Linked DNA regions of Homo sapiens: region 1 is linked to region 2. The links come from fine-mapping of genetic effects on gene expression. A gene starts in region 2. The other region holds a variant in brackets. All regions are shown on one strand. Distances are from middle to middle. Region 1 overlaps CMBL (carboxymethylenebutenolidase homolog). Region 2 holds the start of CCT5 (chaperonin containing TCP1 subunit 5).

Region 1 (5,380 bases), 51 kb after region 2:
ATTATAAATCCCATTTCATGGTAACCAATTTAAAAAAAAAGGAAAGACAACTGCAGAAAACTGAATACTAAGTGGATATTTGATGAAATTGCAAATTATTGTGAATTTTGGCAGGGGAAGATGATGGCATTGCAGCCATGTGTTTTTGAGTCCTTGTCTTTCATAGATGCATCATGATATCATGATGTACCCACAGATGACATGACCAGAGGTCTGGGATTTACTTCAGAATAGCCCCATTTGGGCTGAGTGCGGTGGCTCACACCTGTAATCCCAGCACTCTGGGAGGCCAAGGCTGGTGGATCACCTGAGGTCAGGAGTTCGAGAGCAGCCTGGCCAACATGGCAAAACCCCGTTTCTACTAAAAATACAAAAATTAGCCAGGCATGGTGGTGAGCGCCTGTAATCCCAGCTACTCCGGAGGCTGAGGCATGAGAATCACTGGAATCCAGGAGGCAAAGGCTGCAGTCAGACGAGATCGCGCCACTGCACTCCAGCCTGGGCGACAGAGCAAGACTCCATCTCAAAAAACAAACAAACAAAAACCCAAAATAGCTCCATGTGGGGTAGGGTGGACAAGGTGTCCACGTGCTGATGGTGGTGCAGCTGGAGTGTCCTGTGTACTAATCTCTCTACTTTTATATATGCTTGAGATTTTCCATGACAAAAAGCTCTTAAAATTGCATTAATAAGATAGTAACTAAGATGAAAGATTAATAAGATAATGATTAACATTAATATCAAGATAAAAGTCTCCATAAACAAAGTGAGAAAACAAGATAGACTAGGAGAAGGTATTATTTTAGGAACAGAGGACTTAGTGTCTAGATAAAATATATAAAGAATTCTTATAAGTCACCAAGAAAAAGACAACCCAATAGAAAAATTCATATGAATGGGCAATTTACAAAAAAGTACACCTGAATGGCCCATAAACATATGAACAGATATTCAACCTCACTGTTCTTAAGGAAACTATAATAAAAACAAGAATGAAATACTATTTTCCATCTTGCAGATTGGCAAAAGTCTGTTAACACAGAGATGATGGTACACTTGTAGGGAAATGGGAGGGCATGTGAAATGATACAAACCCTGGAAGGAGTCTAGCAAAGTTAAAGAAGCAGATGCCCCGCACCCTAGATATCCCACCACTAGATGTTTCCCTAGAGAAATTCATGTCACATGTGGTGGGACATGGTGGCTCATGCCTGTAATCCCAGCACTTTGGGAGGCCAAGGCCGGGGGGATCATTTGAGCCCAGGAGTTCGAGACCATCCTGGGCAACATGGTAAAACCCCATCTCTCCAAAAAAAAAAAAAAGCAGAAAAATTAGCCAGGCATGGTGGTGTGTGCACCTGTGGTCCCAGCTACTCAGGAGGCTGAGGTGGAAGGATTGCTTGAGCCCAGGAGGTCAAGACTGCACCACTGCACTCCAGGCTTGGTGTTAAGAGTGAGACCCTATCTAAAAAAAAGAGAGAGAGAGAGAGAAATTTGCACATGCCCACACAGGCACATGCAGTGATTATGGAAAAATGTTCTTGGCACCACTAATATGATGACAACACCTGGAACCAATCTAATTGACCATCAACAGGAGAATGAATAAACTGTAATTTATTGATTGATGTAGGTTGAATTGTATTCCCCCAAAATACATGTTTAAGTCCTATCCCCCACTCCCCGTGCATGTGACCTTAACTAGACACAGGGTCCTTGCAGATGTCCTGTAGTTAAGATGAGGTCATACTGGAGTACAGTAGACCATAAATCCAATGACTGGTGTCCTTCTAAGGAGGGGAAAACGTGGACAAAGACACAACAGACGCACAGAAGAGAAGGCCGTGTGAAGATGGAGGTGGAGATGGGAAGGATGCACCTGCAAGCCAAGGATTGCTGGCCCCCCACCAGACGCTGGAATAGGCAAGGAAGGGCTCTCCTTTACAGGTTTCAGAAAGAGCAGAGCCCTGCTGACACTTTCAATTTGGACTCCTGGCCTCCAGAACTATGAGGCACTGTGTTGCTTTAAGTCACCCAGTATCTGGTAATGTTATGGCAGCCCTAGAAAACAAATACATTCATAAAAAGAATATTACACAACAGTTCGATGAACAGGCTGCACCTGTAATTTATCAATATAATAAATCTCCAGACCCGCATGGTGGCTCAGGCCTGTAATCCCAGCACTTTGAGAGGTCGAGGCATGGTCATAGCTTGAGGCCAGGAGTATGAGACCAGCATGAGCAACATAGGGAGACCCCGTCTCTACAAAAAAATTTTTTTAATTAGCCGGGCATGGTGGCATGCACCTGTAGTCCCAGCTACTCAGAAGACTGAAAGGAGGATCACTTGAACCCAAGAATTCAAGGCTGCAGTAAGCTATGATCATGCCACTACACTCCAGTCTGGGCAACAAAGAGAGACATTTTTATTTTTATTTTTATTTATTTATTTTTTATATATTTATTTATATATATTTATATTTTTTATATATTTATTTTTATTTAAAAATAGAAATACAAAACTTGAAAAATCTCAAAGACATAATGCTATGTAAAAAGACATAGCATTTTGATTCTAAATAACAACCAAAAAACATACATTTTGATGCTAAATAAATAACAA[C/T]CAAAAATATACATTTTATTCATAAATATACTGTAGGAAAAGTATCACGCATGAGAATGAATTATCACCATTAGGACAATTGGTTACCGGGAAGAGAGGGGAGAAAAAATGGAGATCGTGGGCTTTATTATGTTTTATTTCCCTAAAAAGTTTTGATTTGAAGTATATAGGGCAAAAGGGTATTATCTTTCAAATATGGGTGATGTGAAAGGGTGGCTGTTATATAATTCCCTTCACATTACTGAATATTCTTAGTGTTTCATAATTAGAAATAAAGTAATTAGATTTTGAGAAGAAAGAAATTAATAACTAGTTATCCAATCAAGGACAACTGGACTGTAGTTTTCTTGGTTTGGTTTTCATAAGCTACATTATAGAACTATAATTAGTAAGACTCAATAATTCAACATTGTCATTTGACACCATTTCAGAAAAACTCTCAAGCCATGTTTCCCTCTGCTCTCACAATACAGCGATCATCAACACCATGACCAAAGGTAAGGGGTGGGGGCGCGTGGGGCAGTGAGGGCTCAGTTCCAAGACTGCCCCACCCCTCAGACACAAGCAGCAAGTTCAGGCCTGTAGAGCTTTCTTTTTTTCTTTTTCTTTTCGGGTTTTTTTTTTTTTGGAGACGGAGTCTCGCTCTCTCACCCAGGCTGGATTGCAGTGCACGATCTCCGCTCACTGCAAACTCCGCCTCCCAGGTTCAAGCGATTCTCCTGCCTCAGCCTCCCAAGTAGCTGGGACTACAGGTGCCCGCCACTATGCCCGGCTAATTTTTATATTTTTAGTAGAGACGGGGTTTCACCATGTTCGCCAGGCTGGTCTGGGCTGACTTCTTATCTGGGCTGACTTCTTATCTGGGCTGTTTGTTGGCTATGAGGACCTAGGGATCACAGAAAATCCTGGCCATTCCAGGAAGCCTCTAATCTGAATGTTTTTACTTTATTTTCAGTTGACATCCATTTTGCAAAAGGAATGCTTACAGCCAGGCGAGCAGCCCTCTAGGCTGATCCTGCAAGGTTATTCTCCTACAGGAGACGCCCGTGTGTGTCGAAGGCTGGACTCCTGCCCAGACCCTCCACGTGGGCACAGCAGCCAGGCCACGCCTTGTGCCAGGGGCCAAGTCCACAATGGGCAGGGCGAACAGTTTCTACCCTGGCAAGTCTCAGGGAACATACCCTTGACTCTCAACTAACTGTACTATATTTTCTGTATATACCTTTCAGGATTTTAGCTTCCTCCTGCAAATGCACTGTAAACCAAAAATAAAATTCCAAGCATCCCAACTAACTGAATGGACCTCTCCTCTTGGCCAAGGCGATTCCAAAGAAACCTGTAAAACTAATTCAGGCCATGACAGGAAGGAGGGGCTAGGCTCAGTGGCTCATGCCTATAATTCAGCACATTGGAAGGCCAAGGCTGGTGGATCACTTGAGGCAAGGATCCAAGACCAGCCTGGCCAACATGGCAAAACCTTGTCTCTACTAAAAAAAAAAAAAAAAAATTAGCCAGGCATGGTGGTGCATACCTGTAATCCCAGCTACTTGGGCGGCTGAGGCAGGAGAATCGCTTGAACCCAGGAGGTTGCAGCGAGACTCTGTCTCAAAAAAAAAAAAAAGACAGGAAGGAGGAGTCCAACATACCTCATTATTCCCTCCTCCATTGAAGTTCAGGCACAAATGACCAGCATTAACATTCAAACAGAGGTCTCAAGACTGACGAAACAGACTTTTTGTAGAAATAAGGTATGAAATTCCAACCTGACTCAAATACAGCATCCAAGGATATAGACAGCAGGCCCTGAAACAAATCAAGTATTTTACCCCAAAATATTTTTGACATATTTTGAAAGGGCCCTGCAAAGCTATCTCTTGTAGGGGAAACTTACATTCTGTAGAGAATCCCCTTCCCTTTCCAGGTCTCTTTCTGATCCTGAAAAGATTACCTGAGAGTCTGGCAGCTTTTAAAGGTCTGAACAGAAAACATTTGCTATCTATTGCCTCTAAGGGTAGCCATCTATGAGACTTCACCTACATAATAAGAACTTTGGTCTCCCAAACCTCTTATCTTAACCCAGACCCTCCTTTCTATTGATTCCAGGTCTTTCATTATTAATTTAACTCTTTCAACCAAGCACCAATCAGAAAACCTTTGAATCCCCCTGTGACCTGTAAGCTACCACCCTGACCCTGCCATCCCCGATCTTTGAGTTGTCCCACCTTTCCAGACTGAACCAATGTATACCTCACATGTATTGATCGAGTTCCTATGTCTCCCTAAATGTATAAAACCAAGCTGTAACTCAGCCACCTTGGGCACATGTTCTCAGGCCCTCTGGGGGCTGTGTCATGGGTCATGGTCCTCACATTTGGCTCAGAATAAACCTCTTCAAACATTTTACAGAGTTTGACTTCCTTCTGTCAACAACACATGTATTTATTAAAAGATAATTTTCAGAAAGAAGTAAAACCATCACTCTTCAACAGATATAAAAACAAACAACATTGAGGATTGTACTCTACTTGAACGACAGGAAAAAACTAACAGATGTTCTAACAGGCTTGAAGGAAAATCAAAAGAGCACAAATGCAGCACTGGAAAGTGTAAACTAAAAACTCTAAGCCCCCAACCAACTGACTGGATCATCTCTTCACCAAGGAGACCCCAGAATAACCTTAAAAACTGAGTTATTGGCCATACAACTCAGTTATATAGTTATGGGTTGGGGGATCACACACCTCTCATTATCCGC
Region 2 (5,380 bases):
TATGTGCACTGTGATGAAACTTTTTGAGCAAAGTCACCATAATATTTGTGTTTTTAAGAAAGGCAACACAGGGGCAATGAGTCTCTTGATGAAATCATTCTATTTTCTGTCCCAGGTTTTGATGCCTGCAAGTCTTGCAACGTAACAAACATTTGCATGGGGAAATCAAGATCCATACCCATTGCTGGAGCTTTGGAAGAAGTTACTATGTACATCCAATATAGGATGTACAATATAGGAACTACATTGTTAGCTCCATTCAGGAAAAACAATTGATTCCTTTTTGCGATGGGGTCTCACTCTGTCGTCCAGGCTGGAGTGCAGTAGCACAATCACAGCTCACCACAGCCTTGACCTCTCAGGCTCAAACGATCCTCCCACTTCAGCCTCCCAGGTAGCTGGGACTACAGGCACATGCCACCACACCCAGCTAATTTTTTAAATTTTTTTCTTTAGAGACAGGGTCTCCCTATGTTGCCCAGGCTGGTCTCAAACTCCTGGGCTCAAGCAATTCTCTCGCCTCAGCCTCCTAAAGTGCCTCCATGCCAGGACCTGTATTGATTCTTATCAGTAAAAATCAGGCCCTGAATATTCAAAACTAAAATCAAGACTGTTTCTACAAATCCTTCTAACGGAACATGTTCAGACTCCCAGACTATCCTATATATAAATGGCAAGAACTTTCTTTCAGGTGTTCTTTGGAACAAGGAGCCATTCTATTAAATAATGGCTGCAGTGGCCACTGGCTACTTTCATTGAGCACTTAGTAGTCCATCCTTTAAAGTCAAACACAGAATGAGGTTAACTTCTACTGTGTCCGGGCCCTGCTTGCTTATTGACTTCTAATATTGGTTGAAAACTTCAATTTTTAGTGGCAGATTTGGATCAGCTGAAGCTAGAGGCAGTGACAGATGTACAATAAGGTACCCAAGGTTCTTATCCAAGTTCAAGCCAAAAGAAAAAGGCCAAGAAGAGAGAAGGAGCCTGTTAGGAATAGTAACTAGCCACGTGTTTAAAGCGGGCTTATATCAGAATGTCACAACTCATAAGGACTGTTCATTGTGCACTTGTATGTGCATACCTGTTTAATAACTACAGCATATGTTATGTCCCTTTAGCATATATTCTTATGTCCTTAAGAAGCCTTTCTTATACTAGTCTAATGTCATTTGTGTCCTTTTGACATACATGAGCTATTGATATTAGGAAAAATCCTCTCTCACTCCCCAGTGTTTTGACAGGGAATCAACTACACAGAGGATGCCATAGGACATTCTATTTTTCACAACAATCGAAGGAGCCAAATGAATTGCAGAAGTCACCATTTTTAATGAGGAAACACTGAATTGGCAAAGCTAACGTGAAATAAGACCTGACTCCAAAATCTAAAATGTCCTTGAAGAACACTTCAAGGTCTAGCGCGTAAGTATGCCAAGCATGAAGAGTTAACAGATCACCAACCATCCCATGACAGTCAGTCCTCCCTGTTTTTAGAGACAGAATCTCGCTCTGTCGCCCAGGATGGAGTGCAGTGGCGCGATTATAGCGCACTGTAAACTGAACTCCTGGGCTCCACCCATCCTCCTGCCTCAGCCCCAGAGTAGATGGGAACACAGTCGCCAAGTCTGTTCTTGAGTTTCAGGACAGGGTCAAATGTTATAGTGCATGTATTCATTTCAGCACTTATTGAGTGCCTAATAAAGTCTGGGAATAATACAACTTTATTAGTTAAGTCCCTGCCCATGGCAGTAGGGGAGAAGCAAGGATGGAAACCCTCAACAAATAAATCTAAACCTATCAAATATTAAGTCATGATCTTGGAGGGCGGGGAGGAAGGCAGCATAAGAGATTTAGAGGACAGCTGCGGTTGCCAAGATCTTTCTGAGGCAGCATAATACAGGGCTTAAGAGTGAGACCTGCCGGGCACCGCGGTGGCTCAGGCCCAACACTTGGGGAGACCTAGACGGGTACATCACTTGAGGTCAGCCGTTCGAGACCAGCCTGGCCACTACGGCGTTAACACCGTCTCTACTAAAAATACAAAAATTAGCGAGCGTGGTGGTTCTGTGCCTGTAGTCCCAGCTGCCTGGGAGGCTGAGGCACGAGAATCACTGGAACCCGGGAGGCGGAGGCTGCAGTGAGCCGAGACCGCGCCACTGCACTCCAGCCCGGGCTACAGTCTTGTCTCAAAAAAAAAAAAAAAAAAAAAGAGTGTGGGACCCATTGCATCAGGCTGTGTAACTGTTTCTTACTAGCTGTATACCAGTGGCAAGTTACTGAACCATTTGTGCAAAATGTTAATTTATTTACCAACACTGTGTTCAGCTTGCCAGGCACCGTTCTCCTTGAATCTCACAGCAGCCCTGTGAGTAGGCACTACTGTTACCACCGTCACTTTGCAGACAGGGAACCCGAGGGACAAAGAAGTTAAGGGATTTCCTCAAAGCCACAGCTAGGAAGAGCGGCAGAACTGCGATTCCAATCCATCAGTGTGCCTCCACTATCCCTATTCCTTAAGATCGTGCCAAAGGCTGAGTCACTTGCACTAAGTAGCCTAGAACAGTCTCTGGGGAAACGCGCCCGCCGACAAGGATCGCCAGAACCGGCGCGGGCACCGCGCGGCGACCAGGAGCTCTGGTCACCGAAGGCCAGGCTGGAGGCCAGAGCAGCCGCCCGCACCCGGTCACCGCCTCGACAGTGGAGACCTCAGCTGACCGCGAGCCCCCGGCCCGCCCGCACCCCTTCTCATGCCCCCAGGAACCCGCCAAGCCGCTCCAGCCTCACCTCCTCCTCCCTCCATCGCGAGATTTCCAACAGCGTTTTTAAAAAAAAAAAAAAAAAAAAAAAAAAAAAAAAAAAAACCGGAAATGGGTCCTACCATCTTCTCGGAGCCGGAGTGCGAAGAAATAAAGAAATAGTGCTTTAAGTCAATGAATTCCTCCTTGGGACCCACTATCGAGAAACTATCAGTGGTAACGTTTTAAAAAATGACAAATTCAATCTGCTCTTGACTTGTGTGTCCTAAGATTTCCACTAAGTGTCTTCAAACCTCCCCCTCCCCGGCTTCCTGGATAATAGAAGTTCCCGAAGGCCGCCGATTCCAGAAGATACTGTCTGGCGTGAAATTAGTCTCAGTAGAAACATAAGTCCCGCGCGTCTTGTGCTGCGCGTGCGCAAGCTTTTGGGCCCTCCCGAGAAAGGGAAGTGCATTCTCGCTTCCGTAGCGGTCTCCGCCGGTTGGGGGGAAGTAATTCCGGTTGTTGCACCATGGCGTCCATGGGGACCCTCGCCTTCGATGAATATGGGCGCCCTTTCCTCATCATCAAGGATCAGGACCGCAAGTCCCGTCTTATGGGACTTGAGGCCCTCAAGGTAATGGCACAGGGACCTGCTCGCGGTGGGCTAAGGGGAGGTGGCCGAGGCCGTGGCTCTGCGCCTGCGCGAGTTGAGGAGCGGCTCTGCCATGTGCTCCCCGGAAAGGTCGAGAATCTCCGTCTCCCTGCGGTCTCCGGCCGCTCAGCCCGCTTACTGAGCTCGGGAGACGCCGGCGCCTAATCCTGGGCTCGGAATGTGGGGGCCAGCCAGGCTGGGCCGCCAGCGCCCTTCGGAGCTGGGTGGGGCCGCTCAGTCCGGTCGCCCGCGGGAGCAAAGCGGGACCGCCTCCCCGCCCGGCTCCTCCAGCCTGACGGCCGCGTGGGACTGCGCTCCAGTGGGAGGGCGCCGGGGAGATGCTCTGTCACCTGTCGGTTAAGGCGCTGCTGCTTAACCTTTCGCTGGTCCACCCGCAACGGCCCTTCCGTTTTCTTTGTCACTCGTAAAGGTGTGGTCACTTAACAGGGTATTTCATTTCTGAGTGCTTTTTTGCCCACCCTTGAGGAAAAATAGCGAAGAGTGAAAAACGGACGCACATAACCGTAATACAAGGTGGTGTGCAGTGAGAAGGACAGCTACGGAGAGGGTGCACATAAGCGTGGTGCTGGAGGACAGCTTTAGATCGGGGTGAGAGGTAGCATTCTAGGGAGAGGAAACGGTAGAAGTAAAGGCTTGGGCAAGAATGCGCATGGCACGTTGTAGAATGGAAGAGCCATCCGGTTTTAATGGAGCACTGACTTCTTTAACTTACAATAGTTCCCGAAGGTGGAAGCTATTGAATGCCCAACATGGAAAATACGACGTTATCTTTGGGGAAGAAGGGGAGCCATTGAGGGGGTTTTGAGCAGAATTTCAGTAGAGCTGCACTTCAGGCAGCAAAGCTTGAGATAGACCGAAGGGAATAAGGAAGACCAGAGGGGTTAAAGAAACCAGGGCAGGGGTGCAGGTAAGAAACATCTGAGCACCAGACGTTGACAGAAAATGCAGAGGAAGGGACACTCCGAGAGGGCCTTCAGGGTTTGTTATAAAGTGAATTCATAATAGACCATTCCACTAGGTCTCTCAGGTGTCCCTGTTCACTTAGTGTCTTGGAGGTTTACTTACGCAAAGTTAGAAACAATACAGTTCCCCTATGGACTCTTTGTTTGACTTAGTGCTAGTTACACAACCTCGCGGAACCTCCTTTTCCAGGGGGAGGTGATAGGCCTCCGTCAAGCTGAAGACTTGACAGTGATATTAAATGGAGTGACTTAGAGGGGCTGCACAGTGGTTGATCCACGGTAGGCACTCAGTATTTGTTTCCTTTCTAGAAAGAAAAAGTTTCAAGCTAATTGTATTATGTATTCCATTTTATTTTCCACTTAACAGGGACCTGCAGAGAAAATAACATCCAATACACACACCTGGTGTAACAACATAACTAAAACTAGGTTGTTTTGCATCAGCCATTTTGTTCAAACTGCATGCATTTGTGCCCAGAAGTCGCACACTCTGAGACAGGGTTATTTTACAAAACTGGGGACTTGGGCCCAGAGCAGTTGAGAAATTGTTCTGAAGAGCAGTTGCTACTAAAGAGCATTACCATGGTCAGGGCCACCGCTGTCAGAGTCAAAGCCAGTGGTCTAGAGCAGCATTCTCAAGTTTGGCATATTGACATTCGAGGTCGGATCATTCTTTGCTGTGGGAGCTCATTTGGACAGTAACCTGGGTGTTTAAGTCTCTTAAAAGAGTTGGATGCTGTTGGTAGGCATCCTGTGAGTGTTGAGGCTCAGCAGTTTAGGGATATACACTTGCTCCCTGACCTCATAGAACGTCCAGCTAACTTGAAGAACCAAAATATATGGAAATTGAAGGCAACGGTAAAAGAAATGTATAGGCCAGGACGTGAACGTTTTAATGGTAATGGTCACAGTTCTTTCTCTCTGGTCATTTAGAGCCTTAAAGGTAATATGTATTTTGTTGAGATTCTTCACTTGTTTAACACTTAACTGTATAATATTTCACCTTA

The links. PIP is the estimated chance that this variant, and not a neighbour inherited with it, causes the effect.
Region 1: its variant is fine-mapped to the expression of CCT5 in whole blood (TOPMed, PIP 0.99).

What each region holds. Positions count from the first base shown.
Region 1 is chr5:10,298,368-10,303,747 of GRCh38, forward strand. The region is part of intron 1 of CMBL (carboxymethylenebutenolidase homolog); the gene reads right to left. Among named protein-coding and RNA genes, the nearest start is that of CMBL, 6.8 kb to the right of the region's middle. RefSeq lists a silencer at 1,789-1,965. The variant C/T (reference allele first, on the strand shown) is at 2,626.
Region 2 is chr5:10,247,074-10,252,453 of GRCh38, forward strand. CCT5 (chaperonin containing TCP1 subunit 5) reads left to right here and starts at 3,207. Exons shown (of 11, transcript NM_012073.5): 1 at 3,207-3,372. The coding sequence starts at 3,268. ATPSCKMT (ATP synthase c subunit lysine N-methyltransferase) reads right to left here and starts at 2,815. Exons shown (of 5, transcript NM_199133.4): 1 at 2,785-2,815. The coding sequence starts at 2,800. RefSeq lists silencers at 2,585-2,704, 2,715-2,774, 3,525-3,594, 3,665-3,804, 4,135-4,357.